2 linked regions of the Homo sapiens genome follow. The protein of the gene in region 2 interacts with the protein of the main gene of each other region in a biochemical or structural test. Each region holds a gene or a part of one and is shown on either strand. Other genes may lie near its edges.

What was found.
Region 1: the proteins of MMP1 (region 2) and ITGA2 form a complex in vitro, tested with the Homo sapiens proteins (one study listed by BioGRID).

Annotation. Positions count from the first base shown.
Region 1 is NC_000005.10:53,064,920-53,081,757, forward strand, and holds part of ITGA2 (integrin alpha-2 precursor), read left to right. Parts: coding exon 1-196; intron 197-880; exon of another isoform or gene 881-921; coding exon 922-1,058; intron 1,059-2,198; coding exon 2,199-2,338; intron 2,339-5,189; coding exon 5,190-5,341; intron 5,342-7,018; coding exon 7,019-7,129; intron 7,130-7,693; coding exon 7,694-7,776; intron 7,777-8,198; coding exon 8,199-8,340; intron 8,341-9,465; coding exon 9,466-9,558; intron 9,559-10,141; coding exon 10,142-10,218; intron 10,219-10,301; coding exon 10,302-10,385; intron 10,386-13,852; coding exon 13,853-13,955; intron 13,956-15,591; coding exon 15,592-15,702; intron 15,703-16,672; coding exon 16,673-16,777; intron 16,778-16,838. UniProt on the Homo sapiens protein: Integrin alpha-2/beta-1 is a receptor for laminin, collagen, collagen C-propeptides, fibronectin and E-cadherin. It recognizes the proline-hydroxylated sequence G-F-P-G-E-R in collagen.
Region 2 is NC_000011.10:102,795,161-102,811,963, forward strand, and holds the start of MMP1 (interstitial collagenase isoform 1 preproprotein), read right to left. Parts: upstream 3,001-16,803; 5' UTR 2,933-3,000; coding exon 2,828-2,932; intron 2,341-2,827; coding exon 2,096-2,340; intron 2,003-2,095; coding exon 1,854-2,002; intron 1,630-1,853; coding exon 1,504-1,629; intron 448-1,503; coding exon 292-447; intron 132-291; coding exon 14-131; exon of another isoform or gene 1-13. UniProt on the Homo sapiens protein: Cleaves collagens of types I, II, and III at one site in the helical domain. Also cleaves collagens of types VII and X.

The sequences.
Region 1 (16,838 bases), on a different chromosome or scaffold from region 2:
GGGTCAGCACCAATTTCTTGAAGGCCCCGAGGGCATTGAAAACACTCGATTTGGTTCAGCAATTGCAGCTCTTTCAGACATCAACATGGATGGCTTTAATGATGTGATTGTTGGTTCACCACTAGAAAATCAGAATTCTGGAGCTGTATACATTTACAATGGTCATCAGGGCACTATCCGCACAAAGTATTCCCAGGTAATCCATGAGCTGTTATGGTGATGTATGTATTTGTGGGTCTTATCATATTAGACATAGAAAGCGTCATGTAAACCATGCAATCCGTCCGCCTTATTTTGTAACTTCATTCTTTCACTCAGCAAATATAAAGTGAGCCTCTACTGTGTGCCCAAGCACTGTTCTAGAGTCTGGGGATGCTATAAGAACAGGACAGACACAATTCTGATCTTTGTGTGCCTTATATTATATTGGAGGAGACAAATAAAAAGAAAGAAGTAGATAAGATAAAGTATTCCAGATAGTAATAAAGGAATTTTTAAAAAAGCAAATGAAACTAAAATAGGAAATAAAATTTCAGCAATAGGAGTATCAGGTGGTTGAAGGGGTGACTAATGAGGCCTCACTGAGCAGCCAATTTTGGAGTAAGACTGGAAGGAAAAGAACTAGGAAATTAACCCTGTACCTGAACTTGCATCAATTTGCTCCAAGTCCACTGATCTTTTCACTGGTTTATGATTTTTTATTAAAGATTTATGCTGTCCCTTCGATGAAAATGTGGCTGTAAGAGTGATGCAGAGATCAGATAATAAGATGTGATTAAAAAATGAATCTTTAGAATTTGTAGAGAATAAACACAATCTGGGACATTACTATATAGAAAATATAATAATGAAATTCAGAGGCTGCCATTTTCTGGTTCAGCTGTTGTGTACTATAATTTCGTGTCAAACCTGCTCTTTTAGAAAATCTTGGGATCCGATGGAGCCTTTAGGAGCCATCTCCAGTACTTTGGGAGGTCCTTGGATGGCTATGGAGATTTAAATGGGGATTCCATCACCGATGTGTCTATTGGTGCCTTTGGACAAGTGGTTCAACTCTGGTGAGTCAGGAAGAGCCAGACACAAACTAACTAAAAATTACCTGCTAAGAAAGCAGAACAGATGTCTGTACTGGTATTATAGAAATGCCACATGCATTCTATAAGACTATAGGGAATCGATGTATCATAGTTTGCACAAAGGAATAAATGTGTTTTTCCAAGTAGGAAAAATAGATATATTTGCTTACCATTAGAAATATAGTTCTCTCCTCATATGGTGAGTAAAACAGTACATAGAAAACATAAAGTTCTGGAAATGGTATCCAGGCTATTTCTGAATGTTATCTTCCTATAAATAGCCTTATCTCAGCATACAGAAGGGAAACCTCATGAGAGTGCATTCAAAAATACTGAAAATTCAGACCACACAAGTAAAGTGTAACTTCTATGTGACTGAATGGTATATTTTAAAATTATTAGTCATAAACAATAAGCCATTATTTAGGTTTAGCTGACCTCTCATTGACCTCCACAGGAGTTGAAGATTCAGAGAGAACAGTGTGAAGGTCATGTGATTCAAGGTCAAAAATAAGTATATTGGGCCGGCAAGGGAATAGAATCAGAAAGAAGTTGTTTATTCAATCAAGAATCTCCATTCATTTGTCTCTGTCAAAAAATGTGCTTTAAATGTACAAATATTTGAAGAACAGAAAAATAATATTCATTGATTATTTTTTATTTCTGAGTTTAATGATACTATTTACAAATCTCACTTGTGCTTTTAAAGAATGAAGTACATTATTTTTATTGCAGAATGAAACTTTTATGTGGAAAAAATAAAACTCAAGAATAATACTTAAGACTTTAAAAAAACAAGAAAATATATTTACTGAATAAATCAGTTAAAATCATTTCAGAGTAGCATATCAAGAGTAAATACACATATCCCAGAACCTAAAGTATAATAAATAACTAATATGTTAAACATGTATTGTGTTAGTGATGCAGTCACAAATTAAAAAAAAAATTATCTCTGTCTGCCATCTTAGAGCTTTCAAATATATACTACTGCTAAAGTGCTTTGATAGAGAGTAGAGAGAAAAATTCAGTAATGCTGGTACTGGGTCCTCTATGATAAAGGATATAATACGTGTGCTCAGTAATAACATCCATCCATCTGTTACTCTTTATGTCTTTTAGGTCACAAAGTATTGCTGATGTAGCTATAGAAGCTTCATTCACACCAGAAAAAATCACTTTGGTCAACAAGAATGCTCAGATAATTCTCAAACTCTGCTTCAGTGCAAAGTTCAGACCTACTAAGCAAAACAATCAAGTGGGTGCGTAGATCTGAAATAATCTGTATAGAAATTGGTTGGCTTACAGAGTTTTAGTCCTGAATATAACATATTTTGGTTTGTAGGCCAAGAGAAATAAGGGTTTTAGTTATAGACACTTAAGTTTCCTTACACTGGAGATGCCCGAGAATGGTTCACTAGTCATGGAAGATTTGTTTAGATCTTCCTTCCACATCTCTAGAAGGTTCTGCTGCAGAAAGTTGTAATCTCTATGACATAACCAAGGGCCCTCCTGCTTCCATCCTTTGAGTTTCTCTTACCTCCATTTCTCTTACTTAAAACCTTGAGCATACACAGATTATGCTGAACTGCCACTCAAATGACTATATCATGTTGGCTATGCCATGATCTATATAGGACAGGTTCAGTAAAAGTATCAAGTATTTTTCCTGTCGTTGAGGAATTAATAAACATGAAATAATGAAAGAAAACATGAAAAGCAATATATAACTTTTACCCAGTGTTTTAAATGTTCTAAATAATACAGAGAAATGAGTAAAAGTCTGAATTATGTCTCATCAGATGGGGAAGGATGAGGAAATCATTGTGGGCAAGCATCAGCAGGAATTGTTGTCTTTTCTCTTGGGCTGGCCAAGTTGTCTTTCAAGGCCTGGCAGAGGTCCTGCCTCCTCTTCAAAGCTTTTTCTAAGCACACTATCTCACCTTCATCTCTTCTGCCCCAATTATCTCACCATGCTCAATGCATAGCTTGCAATTTAACACTTGATTCAAAGCTACCTTCTTTCATTAACTGCTGCTTCATGGGTCCCAATTCCCATTCCGTCAGAATTTGGCTTTAAACTTCAGAACTTGTAGTTCCTATAGGAATTCAATTAAGTGACAAACATATTAACTTAAAGCTGAAAATACAGAAGCAGGTTATTTGCCATAATTCATACCAAGATACAAATAAGATGAGAACACAAAGCAAAATTAGATTCAAATCTTAACATGCTTTCCATATTTTCCTACTTTTCATATCCATTTGGAAGTTTTCCATGCAGATGTTCAAAGATTGACCCAATTTTGAGTAGCATATGTCACTTGACCTGCCATGTAGCACATCTAACTGAGCACACATGATAGTTAAGTCAAAAACCGTTGCTGCATAAACATTGTGGCTAGTCTGCCTAATAGGTTAACTTGGGAAATATATTATTTGGCAGAAACAGCAAACTGGTCAGCTCTTCTGGCCCCGAAGCATAGAGGTGTCTCATGTATCTTCCCTTTTTGACTATACTTCAACCCTTATGGTGATGCACACTCAAAAATTCTACTTTCAGAGAATTTCCTTCCCATCCACAGGCTGCCGAGGGTTTCTGGCCTTTCTTACTATTGGGCATCTTTCCCTTTAAATCTTTTTTCCTGATGCCTTCAGGTCCACAAAGACAAGCCAAGTGAAATGATTGTGAGCTCATTTGTCACTTCATTGCTTGGCAATAATAGTATGTAAGACGTGAATCCCATCTTCACAACTGTGGAAAGTGAATTTATAAAGCATATGGTTTCTATCATTTATTGCATCAGGTGCACACTTCACTTTAAGATTAATAACATAGCCCATGAAGCGATGTATCATTTTTATAAAGCTGCTTGAAAAAAAAAGGAAAAGCATTATAATGTGGACTAACTTTGTCCTAACTGCACTCACCTCCTTGCCATTGTTTTTCCTTTACATCATCTTCACAACTTATTTTTAGTTTATTTAATTCTTTAATATTTTATCTATCTTTGTTGGCATTGTTAAGTCACTGGAGCAAGAAAAATTGTACAACATATATGATAGATTTTTTTCAAGGTAACATGTAGAATTCATGTTTTGGGAAGTATATACAACCTTTAAAATATTGAAAATAATAAAGTAAGATAGAATAACCCCAAATAAGGCAATAAGGCAGCTGATGCTGTGAATGGCACCAGGTGTTCTCTCTCAATTTTGGACACACGGCCAGTGGACTTTAGTTGAAGGTAATAATTCTGATAGTTTAGACATCGGCTACTGACATCAGTTATTATCACATAATTTTTTTTCATGAGTTGGTATTAGGAAACAGAGGTTCAAAGAGGGTAAGTAAATTGCCCCAAGTCACAGAGCTCATAAACAGCAGAATTAGGATTCAAACCAAGTCTGCCTGACTGAGACTTTATTGCTGCAGTGTTGCATGCATTTCCCTATGTGAGCATCTAGAATAGGTCAAGCACTGTCCATGTTCCCTTAGAGTATCTCAGTTAATCTTCACAATAACAATTAATTCTTACAACTGGATGGAAGCAGAAAGAATATGAGCTCTTATTTCAAAAATACCCAACTTTTACTTCTGACTAGCCATGTGAACTTAGGTGAATTATTTTACATCACTTATTCTAGTACATTATTTGAAAAATAAGATAATAAAATTCACTTTCCAGATTCATTGTAAAACTTGTATGGCATACATGAGAATGTGTCCAGTTGCAGGCGCTCAGCAACTGTTCCTTTCCATTCTGTGTCTCCGTGTTATGAGTAATGAAACCCGTGCTTGTGGGAGTGAGCAATTTGCCCAGGTTCATCACAGTAGGTTTCCTGGCGGCAAGTCTAGTTTCCTTTCCACTGCTCCCAGCCACATTTCTCTGAATCACATTTCTTTGTATGCACAGTCACCTACGTCACATCAGAGCTAGAATGACAAATGCTTTGTGGTGCTAGCTATGGTTCACAAGCCACCAATATGAAGACTATTTCCATATTTTCTTGATGTGAGATACTTTGTCCAAGAAGACACAATAAAGCAAAGATGCTTTTTCCTATAAGTTGATTTGAAATAACATTTCTTTATGATTTTTTTTATCATAGCCATTGTATATAACATCACACTTGATGCAGATGGATTTTCATCCAGAGTAACCTCCAGGGGGTTATTTAAAGAAAACAATGAAAGGTGCCTGCAGAAGAATATGGTAGTAAATCAAGCACAGAGTTGCCCCGAGCACATCATTTATATACAGGTAAGGCCTCAGGAACATCCCTTTTGACTTTATTTCTTCCTAAAGACGAGAGAGTGGTAAAAGTCAAAAATGGAAGCTTATGAGTTAGAAAATGCTCACCCTTCCAATGAATGCCTTTCTTATGTAATTCCATAAATAAGAAGCATATTTACTTTATGCTAATATTTATGGTCACAATCTATTATATAAGTCAGCAACATCAAATTTCATTTAGAATTGCAATGAAAGGGCTAAAAATACAATTCTTAAAGAAATCATAGATACAGTGTTTTCTTAAATGTTTAACAGAGAGAACTTTCCATTGGCAATAAATGTTATTTTGATATTTTCCTATCAGGGAAAAATTTTATTTATTGTTCAGCTACTGAAAAATAACTCCAATTGTGGTTTCTACTATTAGATTTAAGTTAACATAGATGAAATATAGTAGATTATGAGATAACAATTATTTGTTCTAATCGTATGCTGTAATTACTGTATTTAACATGGATTTTGAAAATTTCCCAAGTGAGAAAAATGCTTTTCAGGAGAAAACTTCCAGCCGGAAATTTATTTTATAAATGATGTGAATATTTCCACCTTGGAAACCACATAATGGCATTTGAAAGGATAATTTACTCAGGAAATCACTTTTTTAAAAGGATATTTAAGTACTTTCTTAGAATACAGTTCTCAGAATTTAAGGTGCGAAAGAACTGCCAGGGAAACTTTTGGGAAATGTATATTCTGGGTTCTTACCATCAGAAATCTAGGTTTGAAGGCCCAAGGAATATGCAGATCTAAGGAGCAACCCAAATATTTCTGATGTAAATGGATGGTACAGAGAGATCTTACTTCAAGAAATGCTAAGTGTAAACACTAGAAAAACATAAAGTTGACGGTTAGATGAATTAAAATCAGTTGAGTTGTTTAGTTCATTTTTCAATTTGAAGGTTTCTTGTTTGTGAAGACGTAGACTTCTTTTTTGTTAAAGTGACAATTTTATAGATTCCTTAAAGGAAAAAATCTTATTTCCCTTCTCTCCCATCCTGTGCTGACTGGTGGATCAGATTATACATGCAATCCCTAGTGAGGAAATGGAGACAGCCAAGCTGTTTTTCTTTAAAGTTTAAAAAAACAAAATCCTTTTTCACTATTTGATATCAATGCCAGTTAAAGTACATCCTACTTGCTAAGCCCGCAGCCAGCCAAGGAAACATCTCCTCATAGTCCAGAGCTGTCATGGTAGACAGGCCCCCAGAAGGAATAAGTCCTTCTGGGAGGACTTCTGGGAGGCCCCCAAGAGTTAAGAGTAAGTCCTGCCTGTGAATGGACTAAAGAATACCAAGATACCGCTTCTGAGGAAAAGGCAAATTCAAATGTTAGGGTTTCATTTGTATAGACATAGTGCTTTTTTGACAAGAACTGATGAGCTTAACTAAGAATCCCTGCTTCAAATTCTTACTAGACCCAAGTCTCTTTTGGTTTCTTAGTAGAAGAGAGGCTAAAAGCAGAATTAGGATGGAAGAAAAGAAGCGAGAGTCTTGATTATTCACAACAAAGATATTCTACATAATTGAGAGCTGACTGTGCTCTAAATTGTAAACACATTTGGAATCATTTTCTTGTTTTAATGTTGCTATGCTCTAATAAACTGACTCTGTCTCCCCCTGTATGTTTGTGTGTGTGTATGTTTAGGAGCCCTCTGATGTTGTCAACTCTTTGGATTTGCGTGTGGACATCAGTCTGGAAAACCCTGGCACTAGCCCTGCCCTTGAAGCCTATTCTGAGACTGCCAAGGTCTTCAGTGTAAGTGCAGCTTACACTTCCTGGATTTAGACTGGCAAATAAAGTTCCACAGTCACTGCAATAGTGTCTGAAGGATGGTTAGGATGCAGCCTGAAAATTCTTAATTTTCTAAATGAACTACAATTACATATGCATAAAGTTCACTAACACTTAAGTTCCATGACAGCAGGGATTTTTGTCTTTCTTGTTCACTGCTGTGTTTCCACTCCCTAGAGCAGGGCCTGGCCCATTGTATGTGTTCAATATATATTTGTTGAATAAATAAATAAAAATAAAGTAAATGCCTTGTGCTCATACTCAAAAAATATTACCAATACATATGAAGCTCTGCGTATAGCTGTCCCCGCCATAGACACTTTCATCTAGCTCCCCCTGTGCAAATGATTATCTTGAATTGTGTGTTTATTAATGCTTTTCTTTATTATTTTGTTAAACATTTATATATTCCTAGAACATTGTTTGGTTTTGTACTTTATGTAAATAGAATAATATTCTATGTATTCTTCTGTAATTTGCTTTTTCAACCCAAGAGCAAATGTATGGATCTTTTTTCCTTTTTCGTAGATTCCTTTCCACAAAGACTGTGGTGAGGACGGACTTTGCATTTCTGATCTAGTCCTAGATGTCCGACAAATACCAGCTGCTCAGTAAGTTTTACTTTAAAGCTTGTTGTAAAATGTAGAAATAAAAGACATACTAGATTACTTTATTCAAACGAATGTTTATAGAGTTTTTCTACAAAAGAAACATTCATAACTCATAAATACCTTTAAAAACTAAATTTCAATGTCTACCATCCACATAGGAGTAAAACAATAAGAAATATAAAATTATCTGTATTTAAATGGTTCCATTCCCTCTAATACAATAGCAACAAAGAACAATCCAATTGCATTTACTTATTTGTTGTCAGTATCATTTTGATGCAAAGATAGTTTATTACACAGCAATTTTCTCAGTATTCTAAGTAAGTCTAAAGAGTTTAGTTTTTTAATGAGTGAAATTTTAAAATACTGGCCTTTTTATTTAACAGTAATGGCTTTTCCCCCCTCCTTTTTACTTTTAACAGAGAACAACCCTTTATTGTCAGCAACCAAAACAAAAGGTTAACATTTTCAGTAACGCTGAAAAATAAAAGGGAAAGTGCATACAACACTGGAATTGTTGTTGATTTTTCAGAAAACTTGTTTTTTGCATCATTCTCCCTGCCGGTATGTGATGAGACCCTGTACTTACTTCCACCATGCTTCCTACTTATAGATCACTGTCTTCTCTATGTCCTCTGAGTTGTTTAAAGAAGCACCTTAACCCTCAACATGATCAATCTGAACTTTGTGGCTTCCGACTAGTTAAACTGCATGAGAACATAGTCTGGCTCTATATCTAGATTCTGCTTGACAGCTTGGGTCAGTTTTTCCCTTATCCTGAGACTTGGCAGCAGTAGCCAGACACTCCCATAACTCTTCTTGAGCTATCAGTGTGATGAGGCTGCTGCATTCTGCACAGATGTGGTGCACTTGCTCTGAGACATTTGAGTCCCAAAGCTTAGCCTGAGCTTTGCAACTATGGTTGTTGCTGCTGCCAAGATGATGCACGCCAGCAAAGCCAACTAATCACATTGACTTGATCATTATACCAGGAGCACACTTGACTGTGAGTGCTCCCTGGTCCCTCCTCTACCACCAAATTATGAAGAAAAAAGGGAGAGAAGGAAAAGCTGAGATTTTCCAAATGAGCTATCTGATTAAAGGATTAAACAATGATTTCATTTAATTTAGAGTTAATGTGATCTTAATAGGCTTAGAGTTCTAAACCTAACCTGACCTTGGTGTTTAAACACCCTGTGCCAAGTGGCAACTACTTCCTTTAAAGGGAAAAAAAAACCTGAAGAAAACTAAAAAAAAAAAAAAAAAAAAAACCCTCAAATTACTTAAAATACAGACAAACACCAACATATGATTTTACTTTCTTCTCTTGAAAATGCTTCAAATAAATTGAGAAGAACATATTCCTAAAGCCAGCATTTCAAAATATTGAATTAAAGCTATTCGTGCATCTGAAAATAAAAACTATCATTTTTTTCTGGGGAAAAAATACAGTATTTAATCTTTTCTTTGTTTTGTTGGATGTTCTAGGTATCTTTAGGGTTAGCAATAAAAGTAGTATATTAGCCACCTGGGCAGTATAAAATTTCAAGTCTTGAGGTATAATAAATTATTTCAGTATGAACCAACCTTACTGCTAAAATGCCACTGTACCTCTTTTACCAGGTGCGTGCATACACACACAAATGTTGTATGCCAATTGATCATTGTTGTTTCCTTGGTCTTGTTCAGGTTGATGGGACAGAAGTAACATGCCAGGTGGCTGCATCTCAGAAGTCTGTTGCCTGCGATGTAGGCTACCCTGCTTTAAAGAGAGAACAACAGGTACAACTTGCATTTCATCCTCCAATCCATACAAGCCCTCCTTAGCACATATGCTAATTTACCAACATAACATCTTGCTATCATGATTTGATAGGCATCACAAAATAACTAGCTGCATACTTAGGGGAAGTTTTCAATATCTAAATGTTTTCTTTAAATTATTAATAAAAATGGGATTTTCTCCATGCAATTCATTCCAAAAGGTACACATACTATGGAAAGTTCTTTTTGTCTAAATATGTTGAGCAACATTGGTCAAAGCACTATACACAGAGTCACAGAGATCATTTATTAACCCCTAGTAACAAGTTTCACATCAGCTCAAAGCTTCCAAATTCAGACAGGTATATACGCCTGGATAACTTACATGTGTCACTTGGAAGTCAAGCTTCTCTAATTCTAATGTGAGGCATAGTAAAACAAGGTGGACAAATAAAGATATTCCACAAATTTGAAAGCTTAAGGTATATAAAATTCAGAATCAAATTTGAGTGAGTTTACTTTTATGAGAAACATTTTTTTTTTCACGTTGGCCTCTGAGTATGAAGCATCATAGACTGAGAAATTTTAATTTTGTCTTTAGGTGACTTTTACTATTAACTTTGACTTCAATCTTCAAAACCTTCAGAATCAGGCGTCTCTCAGTTTCCAAGCCTTAAGGTAAAACATAATGAAGTCATGAATGGAATGATGGATAGCTTTGTATTTCTCTTTAAGTAATTTCCTAATGTTTCTTTCTATAGTGAAAGCCAAGAAGAAAACAAGGCTGATAATTTGGTCAACCTCAAAATTCCTCTCCTGTATGATGCTGAAATTCACTTAACAAGGTAGGTGAAGCAGTGGGTAACCTGCTATCACTGACACCAACTCTAGATCAGAAGATTTTTGGCTCATGGCTAAAGAAGTCCTCTGTATGCTCATTCTTAACTGAAGAATTTGAATTAAAATTCTTGTCAACTAAAACAGGAGTCCACAGACATATTGGTCCCTAGGAAAACCTTGAGTGACTCGTTAGGCTTATTAAACCAATGAGAGTAGCCCAGAAAGGCAGAGAAAGATCCCCGTAGCCACACATCACAGGCACACTCCACATTGCAGGCCCTCTGAGTAGCTGCAAACATTCTCAAAATGTTGAAACAGAACTCTCAAAGGTCCTGAGAGTTGTCTTCACTTTCTTCTCACTGCCTACTTCCCATTGTATGTGAGATCTCAAGCAGTATCCCCATTCCTGGACATTGAAGCCCCAAGCACAATGTTTTGCACAGAGTAGGTCCACAATAAATATTGAATCTAGTCACTGTTTGAATATTCAAATATTGGAACTAGATCAAGTCTAGTTTCTGAGGGAAAAATTCCTCACATATCAGATTAGGGTTTTCTTCCAGCCAGGTGGAAATGAGGTTTTTTCCAAAGGATGTTATCCATAAAGAAATGCTTTGTTCCCTGTTTTTACCTGCCCAAAGCAAGCAAACCTGAGAGCAGTGGTGTAAATGTCACTGGTTGATACAGGCTGTCTTTAATTGTTCAGAGGGACAGGTGTCTTGGTAAGTGGGTAACACACAAATTCCACAGGTTCTAATAGGTCGATATCACTTTAACTCACACTTAGAAGTAAGGTGAGTTCATGGCACAGACAAACTGGAACACAGTTGTGCAGATGCACTGGGCACAGGTGATGCCCTCCTACAGGCCTGGGAACCAGAGTTCTCTACCTGGTGAAGCAATAGGACAGCTTCCCAGCACAGATCAATGACCCCTGAATAGCACACTGCAGCACTTTCCCAAGAAATCCAGTGACAGCAGGTTTGTCTAACTTCTACCACATCACTCCAGCCCCTAAGAGCATGGAATCTGTAGATCATCCAATAGCTCTCTGAGCAAAAACAAAAAGGAAAATATGTCATCATGTCTAGAGCTTGAGCCAAACAGCAAAGATGAAAAGAATGCTTCTGTATCAAGTGAGTTGCAAATAGCACAAGCAGAAACAAAATTCCGTCCAAATAATACATCTCTGAAAAAGTCATCAGTAACTGCAGACTTCAAAGGATCCCCACTTGCTAAAATAAGAAATTGGAAACAAATGCAACCAACCCAAATTGATGTTACCACATTACCTGAATTTTTTCCTTCTTATATTTGATCCTTTCTTCTAAATATTTTTTGTCAATACAGTCTTTTTATTATTCTACTCTCCTACAATGGCCAATATTTTCCCAGATATTTAAGAATGAAATAAATATAAGATTGAAATGAGACTTTACTTTTACTAATTATCATCTTAGGCAGGTATTTTTGTAATGGCAACTTGAATTCAAATGTATTCTAATGTTCTTTAAAATATATCCTCAAAAAAATTAACGTAGGGAATTATAAAGAACAAAAGTTAAAATGGGTCCTAGTCCTACTACCTAGAAAACCCAAACATTGGAGAAAGGTAGACAGTGAGAAGTCATCCCTCCCCACCTTCCCTAGTGCCACTCCCCATAAGAGACTGTTTTCAGAATATCTTCCAGATACAGGGTTGCTTATCTACCAGGATATATGCATGTAACACACACATACACATATATATACACACACATGTGCACATTTTATTACCCAAAAGGAATGATAAAACACTCTTCTGTACCTTGCATTTTACATAATCTTAGAAAAGTTTTCATATGAGGACATACAGATCTAACTTATTCCAGTCCTGGCTGGATCATAATTTATGTAACCAATTCAATATTAACAAGACATTTGGTTGTTTTGCATTTTTATTTTGTTTTGTTTAACCATCATAAGCAATGCTGCAAAAAAAATAACAAACATCTTTGCAAACTTTTGGAAAAAATCCTACACAATAACTTAGTGTATTTCTTAGCAACAACTTTGATACTGTATAACTGTACAGTTATATTGTAAAAAAAATGATGGGTAGAAATAGCGATAATAGTATTATTTCTGAAGCAGGATCCCCCTGAGTATAGATATTTACTATTATAAATATATTGATCAACACTTAAGTAACAAATGGAAAAGTGTCAGATCTCTTTAAAATGCAAATGCAGACCATATTAATTTAGAAATTGGCCCCATTTAGGATCTCACACAAAGATCTTCTGGAAGGCATAGGAAATAATTCATGCACACACATCCAAGCTTTCTGTTTCAAATCCTAGTCAGTTTTCCCATTTTCCATGTCAGGCTGACAAATCATTGTTTCCTCTCATATATAACCTTGACAAATACATCCACTCAAGTCTCCCTGTGACATATTTTCCTTTTAAGGATATGGAAAAAATCATTAAGGCATAAAAGAGGGAAAGACAAGGTTTTAGTAAAGAAACCCAAAAAATTCTACTTCAGAAAATATCCACCCCAAGTTTTTAAGAAATAGAATCAACATTCTATAATTAACGTAAATTGTCCAGTGGGAATAAATGGAAAGGATATGCACAGTGTTCTCAGACCCCTACCCTCACTGCTCATCCCCTAATCCCCCACGCAAAGAAGCTACCCTGGTTGGAATCCCACCTCAGAGCCCCAGAAATGAGTGAGGAGAGGGGAGGTCCCCAGTTTCATTCTAGTCTGAGTGGTCCTATGAGGGTTTCTCTGATCTCATCATCACTTTGCTTGCAGAACTTAGTTGGCAATCTTAAGCAAAGAAGTTAAGATCAATCCAGTGGCTTTAGGTCCAGAATACTAAAACCTCTGGATCATCCATCTTAAAGGTGGTCTCTACACTAATGGTGGAAACAGATTTGACCAACCTCATTCAGACCCAAACCATTCAAATTGGTTTGCAACTAAAGAAGGATAGGAAGAACGAATAATACAGGCATCCAATAATGAACACTGAAGGAGCTCAATACCCTATTATTATATTTTAGCCACACCAAAGTGAAAACCCCTGGCTTATAAATCCATTCATTCAACTAACAAGTACTGATTGTCTACTATGTTAACATACTAGTCAATATAACAGTAATCTTGGGAAGACTTCTACTATCAATTCTAAAGTAATACTTTTGTACTTATTTAGAAACTTGAGAATTGGTAGACATGTAATGCACAAACTCTTAGCAGAAAATCCACAAAGAAATATGTTTTCAAAGGAATTTATGTTAGTCTTAGAAACATACATTGGACGATAAGCCCATAGGCAAGCATTTCTTTTTATTTGGTGCTTTTGTAACTAAAAGTAAAATTTACTTTAACCTAAGCTATAAGATACTTAAATAAAAGAAATATTAACCTTCAAGAACAAAAGCAAACTAAAATATTTGGCTTTACAAACATCATCCAACAGATCTACCAACATAAATTTTTATGAAATCTCTTCGGATGGGAATGTTCCTTCAATCGTGCACAGTTTTGAAGATGTTGGTCCAAAATTCATCTTCTCCCTGAAGGTTGGTAAGCCTGTCATAAGGATGGCAAATCCAGGAGAAAGTGAGAAGAAAAAAAATGAGTCTGGAAATAAAAGGAGAAAGTAAAAAGAAATTGAAAGAGATCCGTGGTTCTCAAACTTGGGTGTGCATTACAATCACCTGGAGGAATTGTGAAACCACAGATGCTGGGCTTTATCTCCAGCGTTTCTGATTCAGTAGGTCTAGGGTGGGCCTACACATTTGCATATCTAACAAGCTCCCAGGTGATGCTTATGCTGCTGGTCCAGGTGCCATACTTTGATAACCAATAGGCTAGATCATAGTTAAGTAAACAACTGGGCTTTGTGCATAGTTATGTGTCTTGGGTAAGGGATACTTGATATATTTTGAAGGCAAATGTTCAACATTAACCAACAGAGCATTACTATAAAGGAAGGTATTGCTGTGGGTAAAAGTCTTTGGCATATAATTATTATGCCAATTTATCCTCAGAGACCACTTCTGTTTGAGTTTACCATTTGTATACAAATCTGTACAGTAATACTAGGTAGTATCTAAAAATATTTTTGAACCAAATTCTATTTACTATTAGTAAGCGATTATTAATCTAAAGATTACTACCAGTTAAAGATAAATTAATTTGTGAAAGAATAACTATTTTATATTGTAATTAAAGTTAAAGAAACTTTGGAAAGTAAAAAGAATTTATCCACTATCCTAAGCCAATACCATTTTATTTTTGTTCATTTCTCACTTGTTTGTTACATGGTTGCAACTCTGCAATTTTGTGATAAAAAAAATCTTTAGAAGAATCTTTATGATCTAGATACTACAATAGAATTTATAAAATGTGGATGGTATTTGGCAACTACATTCTTTAATGGGGCATCTATTCAATTCGCGGTAATAACATTCATAGAGTGTGTAATAAGTATACACCAGCCATGGTATCAAGTGCTTTACATATGTTATCCCATTTAGTTCCCAGATCGGTTATGAGCTTGGTATTATTATTCCCAGGGATGTTATTTAAAATATTTAAATAACCAGTAGTGTATGAGCCCTGGCCAATTAGAACAGAAACCCCCACCCATGAGAACAGATGCTGTACCAGTGCCCTGTGCCAGCACATACATACTGAATTTCTGATCATCTTTATTTTACAAATAAGAAAAGCATAGAGAGGTCAAGTTCCTTGCCCAAGCCACACTGCTAATCAGCAGCAGACTGGGACACAACACTCCGGCAGCCCAGCTCCACAGATGGCATTTTTAACCATTTATACCACATGTCTCACAAAGTCACAAATTACTTACCCATTAACATTGTAGATGTTGAGTTTTTTTCCATTGAGCCATTTATGCCCAGTGTTCCATTATTGGCGCACTAAGCATGTGGGAGTTACTTATATCCTACTGCTCAAGGTCATTGCCAAGGTATGATCGAAATTTCAAAAAAATTGCAACCTCAGGCATAAATGCGTTTTAAGAGGTGAGACACAGAGACCTGAAGTGTGACTATAAAGTAATGGCTGACTTTCATTTGGACTCAGTCTTACCACCTCGTAGTTGCCCTTCATCAACACGGGGTTACTGGTGAATTTCCTTGCATCATGTACATCCTGTTGCAGTACTGGCACATTTTATTCTCTACATAGGTAACAACAGGAAGTGTTCCAGTAAGCATGGCAACTGTAATCATCCACATCCCTCAGTATACCAAAGAAAAGAACCCACTGATGTACCTAACTGGGGTGCAAACAGACAAGGTAAAGATTAAAAAATTGCCTAAAAATGTGTACTTTCAAGATGTAAATAACCCATGAGATTAGGGTGATCATGTCTGACATTTTACAGATGGGAAACAGATGGTAACTCCTATGCAGCCTGGGTGCCAACTGACTAGCAGTTAATTTCATATTAGAAAAAATATTGTTACAAGAAAACAAATGGCTGAGTCTAGGGAATTGCAGGTGGCAGAAATTATTCCAAAAACCCCATTTTGGCCTGGTGAAGATCTGACTTTGACAGGCCCTGTGAAGGCTGGGAGGTAAGGGGCTGGACCTATATGGGGAGCATAGCAGGTCTTCACAGCTGTGATAAGGAGCTGGTCTTCAAGCAGCCAGCCTGGACTTTCGCCTGGTAATACTCAACCCTGGCTGTTCATTTTAATCCCTCTGTTCGCTCTTTTAAATAACAGTGCCCAGACCTAACCCAGGCAATTAAATCAGAAGCTCTAGGGGTAAGATTCTTACACCAGAGTTTTTCTTTAACCACCCCCACTCCATCCACACCATGGTTCTAACACGCAACCTGGGCTGAGAAGCGCTGCTCTAGCCAAACCTCTTGACATTGGCTCATCTTCAGTCCAACAGTTGTATTATTCAACAGTTGTATTATTTCTGTAGTGTGCATAGGAGGCTACAGAAAAATCAAAATCCTAAAATGTTCCAGAGAAAATTACCCTGAATTATTCACAGTGTTTAGCTATTGCAGATTTGCCTCATCATATGTGGGCTATAAAAACCTAGCCCACCTCATCAGTTCACATCAGGAGCATTTAAATACTTGATGTTCACCTAGAGATTATATGAAGTGTGGCCAGGTCAGTGGCGTTGAAAGAAGCCTAACAGCCCTTCCCAGACCCCTACAAGTGACAGTAGGATTTCCTAACATGTTGAAAGGAACATCATAAACTGTTTTGCTTCTGAAGTCTGATCGGGTGTTCTTCTTTTATAGGCTGGTGACATCAGTTGTAATGCAGATATCAATCCACTGAAAATAGGACAAACATCTTCTTCTGTATCTTTCAAAAGTGAAAATTTCAGGCACACCAAAGAATTGGTGAGGACAAGTTAACGTGTGAAAGCTCCCCTCATTCATTTATTTCACCTGTGATCAGGAC
Region 2 (16,803 bases):
ACTGACATCTTACCTGTCTTTAAAGAACATCACTTCTCCCCGAATCGTAGTTATAGCATCAAAGGTTAGCTTACTGTCACACGCTTTTGGGGTTTGTGGGCCGATGGGCTGGACAGGATTTTGGGAACGTCCTAAGGAAAATAAAATACCTAGAGTTAGTTTTGCCTAGTATTAGAAAACTACATAAACAATGAAGACAGCTTCTTCAAGGATATCGCTAATGGCTGTTTTATTTGAAATACATATAAAGACCACCAGGCCCTTGTCCGTAATGTTTTTCCCCATACTCACCATATATGGCTTGGATGCCATCAATGTCATCCTGAGCTAGCTGAACATCACCACTGAAGGTGTAGCTAGGGTACATCAAAGCCCCGATATCAGTAGAATGGGAGAGTCCAAGAGAATGGCCGAGTTCATGAGCTGCAACACGATGTAAGTTGTACTCTAAAAAGGCCAATAAATCAATTTGTAATTATTTGAAAGGTATTCAGTTTTGAGGCATTTAACTAATAAATAATTTACAACTACAAGGACTCATGTTACTATTTTATCAGTGACTTTTGAAATATATGCATGTATATCTTTTTTCCGAAGGCAGAAGGCATGCATTTATTAATAACGAAGAGACATGTTGAAACCTAAACTCTATGATTACATTGATACAATTAAAAGACAAACTCAGCTGACTGAAAGCGCACCACAGATTAATCAATATTATCAATGATTAAATGACACGTACTATTTCACACAGAAGCAAAATGTTCTATTAACATTTAATATTTTTCTTTTTCTTTTTTTCTTTCTTGAGACGGAGTCTTGCTCTGTCACCCAGGCTGGAGGGCAGTGGCATGATCTTGGCTCACTGCAACCTCTGCCTCCTGGGTTCAGGCGGTTCTCCTGCCTCAGCCTCCTGAGTAGCTGAGATTACAGACGTGTGCCACCATGCCTGTCTAATTTTTATATTTTTAGAAGAGACAGGGTTTCACCATATTGGTCAGGCTGGTGTCAAACTCCTGACGTTGTGATCTGCCTGCCTTGGCCTCCCAAAGTGCTGGGATTACAGGCATGAGCCACTGCGCCCAGCCTAATATTTAATATTTTTCTTATTTACAAAACTGATAAATGTTGACTGCTGGAAATTTTGGAAAACACAAAAAGCCTTCCTTTTCTTTAATTTCCACATAAGTTTATGACCGCTGTTAAATTTCACTGTTTTCTTCTAATGAAAAAGTTTCAATGTTGATGCCCACAATTAAAACATCAAAGTTTTCAACAATTTTCTTAATAAAAATTTTAGAGTGGCCTAGTTGTCACTGCTAAGATGTTGTTAGCTAGCAGAAAAGACCGCTCTTTCACTTTTCTAAGTGTATCACTAATTTTCTGAGTGGTAATAGAAAAATATATACTTCTATGAATGCATTCTTTCAACTAAATCAACCAATATTACAATGAAACATGAAGGGGTGGGAGAATTGAGAGAGGCAAATTTGATTGGCTTACCTCTGAAATTGTTGGTCCACCTTTCATCTTCATCAAAATGAGCATCCCCTCCAATACCTGGGCCTGGTTGAAAAGCATGAGCAAGATTTCCTCCAGGTCCATCAAAAGGAGAGTTGTCCCGATGATCTGAAAGAAACAATTCAACAAAGATTCCTTGTGGTTCTTATGTAAGCTAAGCCAGAAGGGCAAGCATTAGCTTTGTTAAGAGGCCAACAGACTTCCATCAACTGTGATGCAGTTTCCCTCTTCGAGCCCATAAAATCAACATTCATCTTAAACAATCAATTCCAGTTGCAAAGCTACGAGATCTAGGGGCAAGGTGAGGTTAAGGTGCTATAAGAAGAACTTACCTCCCCTGACAAAAGATATCATGATGTCTGCTTGACCCTCAGAGACCTTGGTGAATGTCAGAGGTGTGACATTACTCCAGAGTTGGAAGGCTTTCTCAATGGCATGGTCCACATCTGCTCTTGGCAAATCTGGCGTGTAATTTTCAATCCTTAGAATGAAACAAAATAGAGACACATTGGACATGACTTCTTACCACTGTCATGGGAAATAGCTCTCTCACTCTGGCCCTCAGTCTGCCTACCTGTAGGTCAGATGTGTTTGCTCCCAGCGAGGGTTCCCCTCAGTGAGGACAAACTGAGCCACATCAGGCACTCCACATCTGGGCTGCTTCATCACCTTCAGGGTTTCAGCATCTGGTTTCCCAGTCACTTTCAGCCCAAAGAATTCCTGCATTTGCTTCAATTTTTCAACCACTGGGCCACTATTTCTCCGCTTTTCAACTTGCCTCCCATCATTCTTCAGGTTGTAGTATTTTTCCAGGTATTTCTGACAAAAGAAAATTATCGAAACACTGCATGGGAAATCTTTCTCATTATTCTAAAAATTGATGGCATTAAGTTTTAGCCAAAACAGAGAACTGCTTTTAAACCTTGTGTTTAGATTTCGCAGTTGCTTTTATCCTTATTTTTGGTGAGAAATGAAATTTCAGAGTAGAAATGTCCCTACTATTAGTTATTGTGAAGTAAGAACTTCATAGTAGAGCAATTTTTGTAGAGCAAGATTTGCATACTGTTACAAGTCTACAATTTGTGGAGACAAGTTTGGATGTTGTTCCTTTAGTTCACTCTCACCTCCAACTGGAAAAAGAGAGCGTATGCATGGCTAGATACATTTTGGGTGGAGGGTGCTGTTTCTAGCAAAAAAAAAAAAAATCTCTTTATAAGAAACCTATCCTTAAAAAACTCTATTACATTACTGCAGAAAAATACAAACTAAAAATTTACATTATTGTCACATGCAATGCAGCATTTACCTGGACTAAGTCCACATCTTGCTCTTGTGTTTCTAGAGTCGCTGGGAAGCTGTGAGACACCACACCCCAGAACAGCAGCAGCAGCAGTGGAGGAAAGCTGTGCATACTGGCCTTTGTCTTCTTTCTCAGTGCAAGGTAAGTGATGGCTTCCCAGCCTCTTGCTGCTCCAATATCCCAGCTAGGAAGCTCCCTCTGTATATATAGAGTCCTTGCCCTTCCAGAAAGCCAGAGGCTGTCTGACTCATGCTTTATAACATCCTCTTGATTAGCTATGAATAGACTAGGCAATCATTAGAAATGGTGACTCCTAGCAGATTATTTGGAATCACTTGGTGTTGCAATGTCATGATTAACTTCAAACAAGATGTGTGCGAAGGAGACACACTCTGCCATGTAAACAGTGGTTTTCTCCAATTCATTTCTTTCCTATTTGAGAAAGGTTCTTGTTATATACACAGGTCAAAGAGTACTCCATGGTCTTTTTGAAAAAGACTGGTTCTGATGGTCATAAAGTGCTACAGGTTTCTCCACACACCTTGCTCCCAGGGCAGAGGGTGGAATTACTAACACTGCGCACCTGATGGCTGTTCGGCACCTGTACTGACTGAAGTTCAGCTCCCCCAGCACTCACTTTACGGTGGCTCTTCGGGGTTCTCTGAGGTTCCCTTCTGCCTTTGTTAAGCTGCCTGGTACCCTATTGCGATAGCACCATGGCTTCCCTTAATCTTTACTCAGAGCCAGGCATGGTGGCTCAAGCCTATAATCCCAGAATTTCAGGAGGCCGAGGCAGGGGAATCACTTGAGCCCAGGAGTTCAAGATCAGCCTGGGCAACATGGTGAGACCCCATCTCTGTAAAAAACAAACAAACAAACAAACATTTTTTAAAGTTAGCCAAGCATGGAGTCATGCACCTGTAGTCCTAGTCACTGAAGAGGCTGAGGTGGGAGGATCACTTGGGCCTGGGAGGTTGAGGCTGCATTGAGCTGTGATTGTGCCGCTGCACTCCAGCCTAGGCAACAGAGAGGGACCCTGTCTAAAATAAAATTTGAAAAAATTTACTCAGGCCTAGGATTTAAGAGCCTTACCTGAGAAGACCCCTCATCCACAGGCGGAGTATGAGATAACTCCCCACCCCTTGCCCATCATTATCATGGGACAAATAGGATCCTTCCCTGAAACTTGTCTGAATGTACCGGATGATGAAAAGGCTGGAAAGAGACTGAGCGTGACTCTGGGGTCTTATTTTTAATCATACTTGTTTCCCTTGATATGAGTCTATCTTCGCTCCTTGGTGCTAGGCAGCATTTATTTATTCTTTCATGTATGCATTCATTCATATATTTATGCATTCCTCCATTCAAAAGATCTTATTTAGCATCTCCTGCCCATTAAAATAAATACATGGCTCTGTAATGAAAGATGTGTATTCCTGTACTTATGTTCCACATTAAATTGTCTTGGGTACTGGTGACCGGTGTCACCAGTGCTATCTGTAGCATTCCTGGTAAGAAAAGTTGGTTTATCTCTGTAGCTCCCCTACTCATGCCCCACTCTCCTTCCTTGGAAGCATTTATTGAAAACATACAGTGGAGAAACACTGGCCTGTTTTATCACTTCAGCACCTTATGGTGTCTCCCACCTTTCCCACTGTATCAGGTTTGCTTTTCAACACTTTCCTCCCCTTATGGATTCCTGTTTTCTTTCTGCGTCAAGACTGATATCTTACTCATAAACAATACTTCAGTATATCTTGGATTGATTTGAGATAAGTCATATCCTTTCTAATTATTTAACTACAATTTCCTCATCTAAGTGGCATAACATGTGAGTTCAAGAGGGTAAGAAGAATGGGAAGACATTCTCACGAAAAGGAAATCCTCTTCTCAGAGGCATCAGAGGGAGGGTGCGGCAGAGACCAAAGAACACTTGCCACTGAAGTGACTCCAGCACAGACAAAGAAAATAGTGAAAGGGGCTCTTCATATTAGAGGGTGAACATAGACTATGTTTTAAAAGTCAAGGAGTGGCAGATATACTCGACTGTGAGGGAATCTAGTCACTGTGAAGACGTGACAAGCCTAGCTCCACTGAGGCCTGGGAAACAAGGGTGAGTTAATAGGTTAACTCAGGAAAGCAGCATGTGACCATCTGTGATTGGACAGGAAATTGCCTAAGACGTCACCCTGGAAGAGTCTCATACACTGTCCCATCTGGCAAGAGCCTGCACATCCTGCAATGTAGAAGTTTTCAAACTTTTATAAACCTCTGTATCCTTTACTTAAACAAAATCCCTTTTGGAAAGCAAATTTGAAAACCAGGTGAAAACAGAAGTTCTCTGATGGAAGTTGGAAATAGAGCCTTGGAGTCCCCCACAACCCGCCACATCATGCCTGCTTTTTCCTCCCTTCTCTAGCAAAGCTCCCTGCATCTGAGTCCAGAGCTCTCATGCTAAATGCTCATAGTGTTTCATTAAATGTCATAGTTGCTGACGTGGATTGGAAACTGGTTGCTTGAAACATCTTTTCGTTAATTTTTTTTCCTAAAATAAACGAAAAAAATTAAATTAAGTTTTGGTTAAGCAGCCAGCCTAGATTCACATGGCCCTGAATCTTGGAATTTCCAGTTAGGTATTCATGGAAGATCGTCTAATACAACATATGTAACTTTGCAGCTGGTGCTAGCATATGATTTATTTGAGAGTAAAAAAGAAAACAAAAATTTAGAACAGAAAGCTGGGGATTAAATCATACCAAATCCTAGCAATGCCTAAACTTAGCATAGTTTCCAAGAAGTTCAGAACATGTTAAAGTTGTATTTGCTCTTCACATCCATACTATTTGTTTCCTCTGGGAGCATCTTCTTCCCCCATAATTCTCTTTTAAATGTAATTTTCTGAAATTATTCCTTTACCCCTTATGACAAGCATAAGAGGGCTCTCGTGTGGCTGTGTCAGCTGACTCCGGACTATTTCCAGGCAGCCAGATTATTTCCGTGGTTTTCTTGGTTGCTTCATGCTGGCTGCTCTGTGAAAGGCCTCAAACATATTTGTATTTTTCCATATTAAACTTAGTCTTGAAATTTCAATCTTGCTTCATATTTTTTTATGCTGGGGAATTCAGCCGTTTTAATTTTGTAACTCCATTTGAGTGTCAGATATTTTTTCTATTTTTTTGTCCTGCAAGTCTTGAAATGGTCTTTAGCCAGAAACATTAAGTATTTAATGCTATTTTGTTGTGAGAGTTACACGTGGGAAAAATTTGCCCCACGGTCTGTATTCTTCCTACATATGGCCATGCAGTAGCTTTATGGATAACCATTGACCAGACACTTAACAGACACTTGGTACACACTGGTTCCGTCAGTCCTCATGGTTACCTTCTGGGTAGAAATGATTGATCAATTAACCCCAAGTCCCAGGGCACACAGCAGAGCGGTAGTCACTCGTTGAACACAGTTCTGTGCCACTGCAGTCCAGACATAACACATACATACTCTGGGGATAGAAATCTTGCTTCCCTAACAGAGAGAAAGTGTCTGGAGACACGAGGACTGTCACATTAACTCCCTCAAGTCCACAATAATGTCTCCATGCCACCACCCGGTCCCACAGGCCTGAAAGAATCCTCCCCTTCAAGCTGTCACTCAATCTCTCTTATTTCCCTTATCAAACTTGTTGAATTTATAGTTTATACTACCTCAACATAGTAGGTGTCTGCAAATGATTGTTACATGAGTTAATAAATGAATAGATCAATGAAGAAATAGATACTTAAATGACACTTAAATAAAGGGTCTATTTCTCATTAGGCTGAGTTGTTTATAAGAAGTCTTATGCCCATGACTTTTACTCTCCTAAGACTAAAGTTTTTAAAATTACCATGGGAAGAATTTGGATATATCAACTGACTGGACATTCAATTAACTAATTTATTTATTTAGAGACAAGGTCTCCCTCTGTCGCTTAGGCTGGAGTGTAGGGACCTCAAACTCTTGGGCTTAAGCAATCTTCCTGCCTCAGACTCCCAAGTAGCTAGAACTACAGATGTGCACCACCATGTCCCACTGATTTTTAAGATTTTTTGTAGAGATGAGGTCTCACTATGTTGGCCAGGCTAGTCTCAAACTCCTGGCCTCAAGCAGTTCTCTCACCTCGGCCTCCCAGAGTGTTGGGATTATAGGTGTGAGCCACCACACTCAGCCTTACTGGAGATTTTATATGAAGCATAGCACATTTATTTTTGGTGATTTGCATGCCATGCTACAAGCATTTAGTATCAGATTATTTTGAGCATTTTATTAATTTGTTTGTCAATAATATTTTCTTATCTGCATGGTTTATTAAACACTGTGGAAAATGCTTATAGTTAGCACATTTGTGAAACAGATTTTTGCAGCTATAGCTCCTTTTAAAGGAAATTCAAACCAAGAGACTTTCTGGGGATGAGTGCTACTCATACCATAGCTCAGTTCAGCCCTGTCAAAACCGTCCTTTCCCAGCTCTTACATCTGTGAATGTGAATTTGAGATGGATTTGAAATATGTGAGGAAGCTTCCTGTGAGATTTTGATCATGTGCCCAGACTATGACTTGCTTGTTTGGAGTCTGTGACATACACACGTGTGTGGCCTGCAGAGCTTTTAGTCCATGATTCAGAATTCAAACTATATTCCATTGTTTCAGAATTTTTCTGTTTTTCACAAAGTGAAATGTTCTCTAAGCCTGCTACCCAGTTCTTTTTAATTACTCTTAACTACTTATGCCTCAGCCATAATTCTTTCTTTATTTTTTTATTATTATACTTTTTGAGGCAGAGTCTTGCTCTGTTGCCCAGGCTGGAATGCAGTGGCATAACCATGGCTCATTGCAGCCTCCGCCTCCTGGGCTCAAGTGATCCTCCCACATCAGCCTCTCAAGTAGCTGGGACTACAGCTCTCGTACGGCAACTGGGGAACTACAGGTGTATGCCACCACACCCAGCTAATTGTTATTATTATTATTTTTGTAGAGACAGGGTCTTGCTATGCTGTTCCGGCTGGTCTCAAACTCCTAGCCTCAAGTGATCCTCCCTCATCAGCCTCCTAAAGTTATAATCATTTATGATGACCATTGGGCTGGTCAGCTGGTTTTCCTTGAACCAGTCAATTCTTTTTCTTTTTTTTTTTCTATTGAGACAGAGTGTCACTCTGTCACCCAGGCTAGAGTGCAGTGGCATGATCTTGGCTCATTGCAACCTCCACTTCCCGGGCTCAAGCAATTCTCCTGCCTCAGCTTCTCAAGTGGCTGGGATTACAGGCATGTGCCACCATGCCTGGCTAAGAATCAGTCAATTCTTATGAATTCTCACTGAAAGAAATAACATTTAACCTTTACTGGGCTCTCTATACCTTTAACATACAAAACTATTTTATCCTCACAATAATCCTGTGGAATAGTTAGGGTGGATACTATTATTTCCATTTCATAGGTGAAGAAACTGGGACAACTTTCCATGACTAAATCTTTTGTCCAAGACAGTTCCTCTAGCAAGTAGTAGAGACAGAAACTTGAAAAAGGTCTTTGGCTGCTAAACCAGGTAATTCAGCTCTTAAGACAAAAGATTAATCCCTGCAGACATCTTTTTATACTTGTCACTGAGATGCATTTTTAGTTCTAATAGAAAATTATTGATGAAACCACCAATAAGACTGCACAGTCCCTTTTTGCTTAAACTGACATCTTCTCCCGTGAATTATACCCTTCTCTCTCAAGGGTGTTTCTTGCCCTTGGCACAGATTCTTTCCCTCATCCTGTGAACATGGCTGCTCTGTGAAATACATGAAGGAGCACAACCCTAACAATTGTTGCAACCCATAACTCCTTGAGCATCACTTTTCTCTTTGTCATCAGCCTTATTACTTAACTTGGATCTTGACCTTGACCTCACCCCCTTGTAGTACATTTTCAAACATTACTATTAACATCCACCATTTTAAAAAAGTCAAATGGCTTTTCTTCAGTTCACATTTTCATCAGTCCTTTTTAGTATTCAATGCTCAGTCTTGGAAACCCTCAGCTTGGAGTTTCTGCACTTTATTTTTCTCCCTGTACCTTTCTGATTATTTCCCCTCCTTTGCTGGTGTCTCCTTCCTTCCCTTCCTCTTGAATTTTGCCATTCACCAATGTCCTGTTTTGAGTCTTCACTTTTAATCTCTGGCCACTATTTCTCCAGGACAGTCTCATCTATTCCCACAACTTCACCCAACATCCCCACAAAAATGTCTTCCTAAACTCGAGCCCTACTGTTTTCCTGAACTCCTGTCTCATAGTTTCCACTGCCACCAGGACACTTCCATCTGGATAGATCTGGTTTCATTTTCTTTTAAACCAAGACTCCTATTCCTCCTTATATACTTCTTACCTAGCACAGCTTGCTAAATCACAGACGTGGGTTCAAATGCCAACTCTGCCAATTACTAGCTAAATGACCAATTATTCAACCTTTTTATTTTCTCATCTAAAAAATGGAAATAATAACAGCACCTGCCTTAGATGGTTGTTTGGAGACTAAAATAATACATATAAAATATATTAGTACAATGACTGGCACACAGTGAACACACACAAAATATTTGTAATTATTTTTATGAATAAAATGCTTCAGTGGTATCCATTGTCTAGCACGGCAAAAGGAACAACCAGCAGAGTAAACAGACAACCCACAGAGTGGGAGAAAATCCTCACAATTGATATATCTGACAAAGGACTAATATCCAGAATCTGCAACAAACTCAAATAAATTAGCCAGAATAAAACAAACAATGTCATCAAAAAGTGGGCTAAGGACATGAACAGACAATTCTCAAAAGAAGATATACAAATGGCCAACAAACATATGAAAATATGCTCAACATCACTTATGATCAGGGAAATGCAAATCAAAACCACAATGCGATACCACCTTAATCCTGCAAGAATGCCCATAATCAAAAAATCAAAAAACAGTAGATGTTGGCATGGATGCAGTGAACAGGGAACACTTCTACACTGCTGGTGGGAATGTAAACTAGCACAGCCGCTATGGAAAACAGTGTGGAGGTTCCTTAAATAACTAAAAGTAGAACTACCATTTGATCCAGCAATTCCGCTACTGAGTATCTACCCAGAGGAAAAGAACTAAATTATACAAAAAAGATACTTGCATATGCATGTTTATACCAGCACAATTCGCAGTTGCAAAAATGTGGAACCAACCCAAATGCCCATGAATCAACAAGTGGATAAAGAAACTGTGATATATATTTATCATATATATATTTTATCATATATCATATATATACATTATATATATAAAAAATATAACAGAATACTATATATGATATATATAATACTCTGTATATTATAATATATATACTATATATAGAGTATATATATTATATATGATGGAATACTATTATATGTGGTAGAATACTACTCAGCCATAAAAAGGAATGAATTAATGGCATTTGCAGCAACCTGGATGAGATTAGAGACTGTTCTTCTAAGTGAAGTAAATCAGGAATGGAAAGTCAAACATCTTATGTTCTCACTCATAAGTGGGAGCTAAGCTGTGAAGATGCAAAGGCATAAAAATGACACAATGGACTCTGGGGACTCAGGAGGAAAGGGTGGGAAGGGGGTCAGGTTTAGATAAAAGACTACAAATTGAGTATATACTGCTCAGGTAATGGGTGCACTAAAATCTCACAAATCATCACTAAAGAACTTACACATGTAACCAAACACCACCTGTTCCCCAGTAACCTATAGAAATAAAAAATTAATTTTTAAAAAAAGCAAAACAGATATAAACTAACTTTAGCACTTAAGACCTTCCATGCTCAGGTCTAAAAATAACTTACCGGTCCCACTTCCCTCTCATCCTACCCCCTTACAAACAAAGTGAATTATATTTTTTCCCAAATGTGCCTTGTACCTGTCCTGCTTTTTTATATTTTTTATTCTCCTCTATTTCTACTTAATACAAGTCTACCCATTCTGCAAGACTTAGTATAAGGGTTACTTCGCTGATAATTTCCTCCATTACCTTTCTCCCTTTGTGAGATAGGTTTTTTTTACAGAAAGTTTTTAGTTTTCAATGAACTTGTAAACAAAAAAAGTTCCCATTTCAAAATAAAAACAAAATCCCAGATCATGCAGATGTTTACAGTGATTATGTTTATCTAAGCAACATGGATACATGTTTAGTTGTAAGATGTTAACTAAATTTCTGTGACAAATATGCTTTTTTAAATAACAAGAATATTATAAAATTAATGCAGAGTCCTAAGAATAACCTAGTAGTTACTAAGTTTTTCTTACATCTTCATTTTGGACGCTGTTATTTCTAGCACGAATGAGCAGGCAGAGCCTTTCATATGCTCAAACAATGGAATATTTGGTTGCTATCATATCAATTGGCTTTCAAGCAACAAGACAACCATTTTAAGAATGTTTTAAGTGAAGAACTTGCAAAGCCCAGGGATGGAAAAATGCTAAGAATGCACAATTGCGAGCACTTACAACCATCACAACTGTGGCTGAAGACTTTATCTCCTTCTTCTTAAATGACATCTCAAAGTAGTATAGTTCAAAACAAAAGGTTTTAACAAAAAAATTGGCATTTGCCCAATTTCTCCACTAATTTGTGTGAGTCAAACATTTAATTTTTTCACTTGAAAAAAAATGCAATAGAAAACCGGACATCATGTTTCACTATCTCAGTTAATATTCACGATTACAGCAGCTGCAATTCAGGATGCAGCATTACCAGTGCTGCCCAGAGTCAGTTCATACTGAAATTAAGTTCCTAACACCAAGTAGTTGGTTGCAACTACCATTGGCTAGTGTACATATGAAATAAAATTTCTAGCAGCAACAAATGCGAGATCAAAAGCAACAGATCATCTGCTCTGCTTCTTCTGTTACTCAGCTCGTGCTTAGAAACCAGTGGGGGTTTGGGCCTGCTGACCCTGCCCACTGGAAGAGGCTGTCTGCTGCGCTACTTTCAACTTTCACATTGTCCAATAAAATGTTTAGTCGTATTGGTGGTTCAGGGTCCTCGAAAGAATGCGGAATAGCTGTCTGAGATACACCTCATCCGGGACTTCCTCAAAGTGTAGCCCGCGATTATAGTTTAAGCACATGGCAAATTCTGCAGGAAACCCCTTACATAAAACTTCAACAGGAGTGGGCATCTTCTTTTCACTAATCTTTTCATATTTTTGTTTCTTTGTTGCGGACCTAAGTCCTTGCCATGGCAAGCTGGTTCTGTTAAAACACATCAAAACAGCCTAAGGATTCCATATCATCTCTGTGACTCTGCTCGATACCAAGATGTGCATTGATGCTGGCACGTCGGGCAGTGCTAGTGAGATTTTTATATTACCTGCACAGTATGCGTTGCCTTGTCCTGCTGTTGCTGTATTTTTTGACCAAACCAGAATCAATACGGAATAACTTACTACAGTGGTGTCCAATACCTTTAGGGAGTTATCTGGTTTAACGTCTCTATGTATAAAATTGTTTGTATGCACATACTCAATTTTATTGATTGTCTGGTCAGCTAACATAAGCACAGTTTTCATTGTGAACCTTCTTGAAGAGAAATTGAAGAGGTCTTCGAGGCTAGGTCCCGGAAGGTCTATGACTGGTACATTGCAGTCTTTTTCCTGATCATACCACGGTATGTGGGGGATGCCAAGCCTGCCTTGAAGAATCTCACAGAGTTTGCTTTCCTACAGCAACTGGGGATGCCTGGCCTTTTGAGATTCTAGCTTCACTGCCACTTGCTCGCCATTGGTGATATCGATGGCCAGATAAAGGTCCCAGAAGGAGCCAGACCTGATCTTCCTTACTAGTTTATATTTCCCTCAAACAATAAATTCGGCCTTGGATCCGCTGCTGCTCGCCATCCTAAGAGATGAAGACAGAGGCTGAGGCCAAGTCCAGACGCCTCTGAGAGGAGGACGGAGGCCTCTGGGGCTCCTCCACGGCGGAAGGTGGCAGGAAACGGGACATGGAACACGGAGGCCTCCCTCATATTCGCGGCCCGGAATCAGCTGACGGGGAACCTGATCACCGCTGCTCAGTCAGGTTTCTTGTTGCCAGGCTGCGGTTTGTGAAAGGGTTCTTGCAGTTACAAGGCTGGGCCACTTGTTTCTGGGCGGCGCCACTGCCTTGCTGTCTCAGCTATGTGCAGGCTGGAAAAAGGGGTGCGGTGAGCTAGAGCAGGGATACCATTGCCACCACTGCCAGCAGCTCCAGCCCGGAAGGACCCCTGTCCCTCTGCCGACGCTGCCGTCTTGTTACTCCAGCTCCAGCCCAATAGTTTCACTCTGAATTTTCTTAGCGCATTACACTTTCTTAAAGCCCTTTTCATATTTTCCTTATCTTCACCTCATTCTCTTAATGGAAGGTGATTTGTTGAAAAAAGGCTGATGTTTTCATTGTGTCCCTGCCCATTCTCCAAGGTTTACCAGTTGCTTTGTAGAAACTTGCTCAACAGGGGAAATGTTAGGTTACATGCAATAGAATAGAAAAAGTGGCACTTAGTACTTTTGAGGGTAAGTGTCCCTTTAAGGGTAAGTGTCCCTTCTTTCAGTAAGAGTTCTTTCGCTTTGCAAGTCTGAGGGAAATCCTAGTGACTATGTATGCTGAAGTGGTTTGATACGGTTTTGCAGTGTCCCCACCCAAATCTCATCTTGAATTGTAGGTCCCATAATTCTCACATGTCTTGGGAGTGGTCCCGTGGGAAGTAATTAAATCATGGGGACGGGTCTTTTCCCGTGCTATTCTTGTGATAGTGAATAAGTCTCACAAGATGTGATGGTTTTCAAAAGGGGGAGTTCCCCTGCACATGCTCTCTTACCTAGTACCATGTAAGACCCTGACTTTGCTCCTCATTCGCCTTCTGCCAGGATTGTGAGGCCTCCCCAGCCATGTGGAACTATGAATCAATTAAATCTCTTTCCTTTTTAAATTACCTGGTCTCAGGTATGTCTTTATTAGCAGCGTGAGAACAGACTAATACATGGTTAAACCCAAGAAACCACAGTGAACTCTCAAAGAAAATATATTTATCAGACTGTCTCAGTATATGTGGACCACATGTTAGTTAAGTATCCCCTAGACTTTTGTATGAACAAATTGAAAGCAAGTAGACTGAACTCACTCCCACTTAGTAAGCACGTCTGATCTACAAGGCTAGAAATTGCAAAAATAATCAGACACGAATTTAGCTCTTAGAAGTTAATTTGCTCATGAAATGGATGCAGCCTAATTATTGCATAAATTATTATTTCTTCAAGTAGCTGTTAAAATCTTAGGTGTAATTCCTATTATGCCAATGAATATTTATGTGGTATATATCTCCAAAAATATTATGAAAGACAGGGAAAATAAGATTCAAAATGCAAGTGTGTGCTTTCTAGGCAATTTATCCAGAAATACAAATTTAATCAAAGTCCTTTTTTACTATTCTTTAAGTTCTGGCACTTCTTACTACTGATAATAGATCTTGTCACATTGGCATAACTAATATCTGTTGGGCATTCTTGGAGAGGTAAGTGGAGAGGGACTTAAAGGATTTGTGTGGTTAGACAGCTGTCTGGACTATTTCAATAAGCCCTGCCTGCGAGGGTCCTTTGTTGGGTCTTGGGGAGCTGATAAAAGTGAATGATTCTTAAGCCATTTTATACACCAAAACATGAGTAGGTATTTGTTGGGATTTGGCTTAAGACTGAGGACATGCAACTATTCAGTTTCAGAATCACATACTGCATTGTGGAGAATTTTGGAGATTCGTTCTATTTCAGAAAGGAGACCAAATTACCTACTCTCCAAATCGTCTCATAAAAAAATTTAATCCTAGAGATCAATTGAAAAGGAAATCAACTTCTGCTTCCCTGTTTCATATTAGTGGTCCTTGAAGTTAGGGTAATATAAATGTATTATTTCCCATTTAAATCACATGCAATGAAAAGAGTTTCTGACACAGAATAGCAGAATACATGCTAAATAAGAGTTAGATTTATTATTTTTATTTTTGTGTGTGCTTTCTCAACTAAATTCAATTTCAGGTAAAATGCAGAGATAGCCTCAGCCTATCACCCTGCAACTAGACTCTGTGCGTTCTGCAGTGAAGCTGATAAAAGACAGTGCCCTATCTTTAGGCACAGCCTAGTTCTCCTCTGCGGTCTTGGGAAAGAAAACTAAGTTTCCAGGCCACACAGCTTTCAAAAGTAGAATGCCTGTGGTGGTGTAGAAGAATGTATATAGATAGAATGCATGGGACAAAATAGTTTTTATAGAAATCTTCTCTGAGGATTATAGCCAGAACCCCTCAGAAAACTCTATCTTAAAAGCTACACAACTAGAGCTTCTGTTTGTTTTCTTCCATGGCTTTAAGGCTCAGCTTGAGGTCATAAGCCCCCATCAGGTCCCCCAGTGTCTTCTGTTACTGAGCTCTTCTAGCGCCCTGCTGTCTACGTTGTAAGAGCAAATCTACATACTATTTACATGGAAGGTTAGCGCAGTCTTTCTATAAAAAGGTACCAGTGCATGTTACATATTTTACCTACACACACTTGGATCTTTATGACTCAATATCTGTAAATATACCCGTCTATGTAACTATACATACATAGGTGTATTTAACACAGTCCCAGCAAAATAATATATACATATAATTCTATAGACAGAGTATGTCATAGGATAATATATTGAGATATAAAATTATATTTTCCTCTATATTTTTCCCTGACTTTGCCAAGAACTGTGTATCTCCTAGTCTCAGAGGTGTCTTCAGGACTTCAGTTGAAACCTACATGAAGGCAATATCTCTTTCCAACTTTTGGAAAAGCCTGAGCTCATAGGAAGAGGTTGTCAGATGTCTTCAACTAAGAGGGGAAAGGAAAAAGGTTTCAGGGAGGCATGAGAGAGGGAGAGGTTTCCTTAAACTGGAAAGAGACATCTGGGCTGTTTCCACCAGGCATAAAGACCCATGCTCTACTTCTAGGTCCCTGGAAACTCCTGGGGTAGTTGTGAGGTGGGCCTAGGGAGGCAGGATCCCTCAGATCTGGATCCTTAAGAGTGTGTGAGTGAGGAAAAATGGAAACTCATACGTTGTCTTCTCCAAAACTCCAGTAGGTGGCAGAATGGAAATTTAAACCCAGGGCTCATTCCAAAGTCAATGCACGTTCCAATCTCAGTGCTTTTTAGATGTAGTAAGTGAAGATAGTTATCTCGTATGTGGAAGGGGGATGTGTAGGGGATGTATATTTCAAGTATTCTCCAAAGGATGTGATAGACAAAGTGCAGAATTTGGAATTAAATGATACAGGTTTGAATCACAGCAGAGCAATCTTGGGTGTTATCTGCAAAAAGGAAATAATAATGCTTACACCATTTATTTATGATGTAATTGAACTGATAAGTACTTTGCAAATTGAATGACTACATATGTTGTTTTTACTACCTTCTGACCTTTAAGACTGTTTCCCATGATCAGGTACTACACAGCAATAAAAGGTAAACAGGAATTCACAGACATGTAACTCATTTCCTTAGTCTATGGCATTTTCTTGAACTAAAAAAAGAAATTTGTCTCTAGAATATTAATCAAAATACTACCTGTATACATGTATTACAAATTCTATATACTCCCATTCACTAGTACTCCAAGCAGCTTGATTACAAATGTTGAATTACCAGATGTACACAGAAACAGAATATAGAACTGGAAACAGCATTCTTGTGTGAAAAAAAAAACTGATTTTTGTATAAGGCAGATTTGGATTCAAAAACTGAGTTTGCAACTTTTGAGACTTACATTCTTGGGTATGTTAACCTCTCTAATACTGTTTTCTCACCTATACAGTGGAAATAATAACATTAATATCCAGCATGACAGTTTTGAGGATAATTAAATCCCCACATGCAACGTACATCATGCTTGTCAC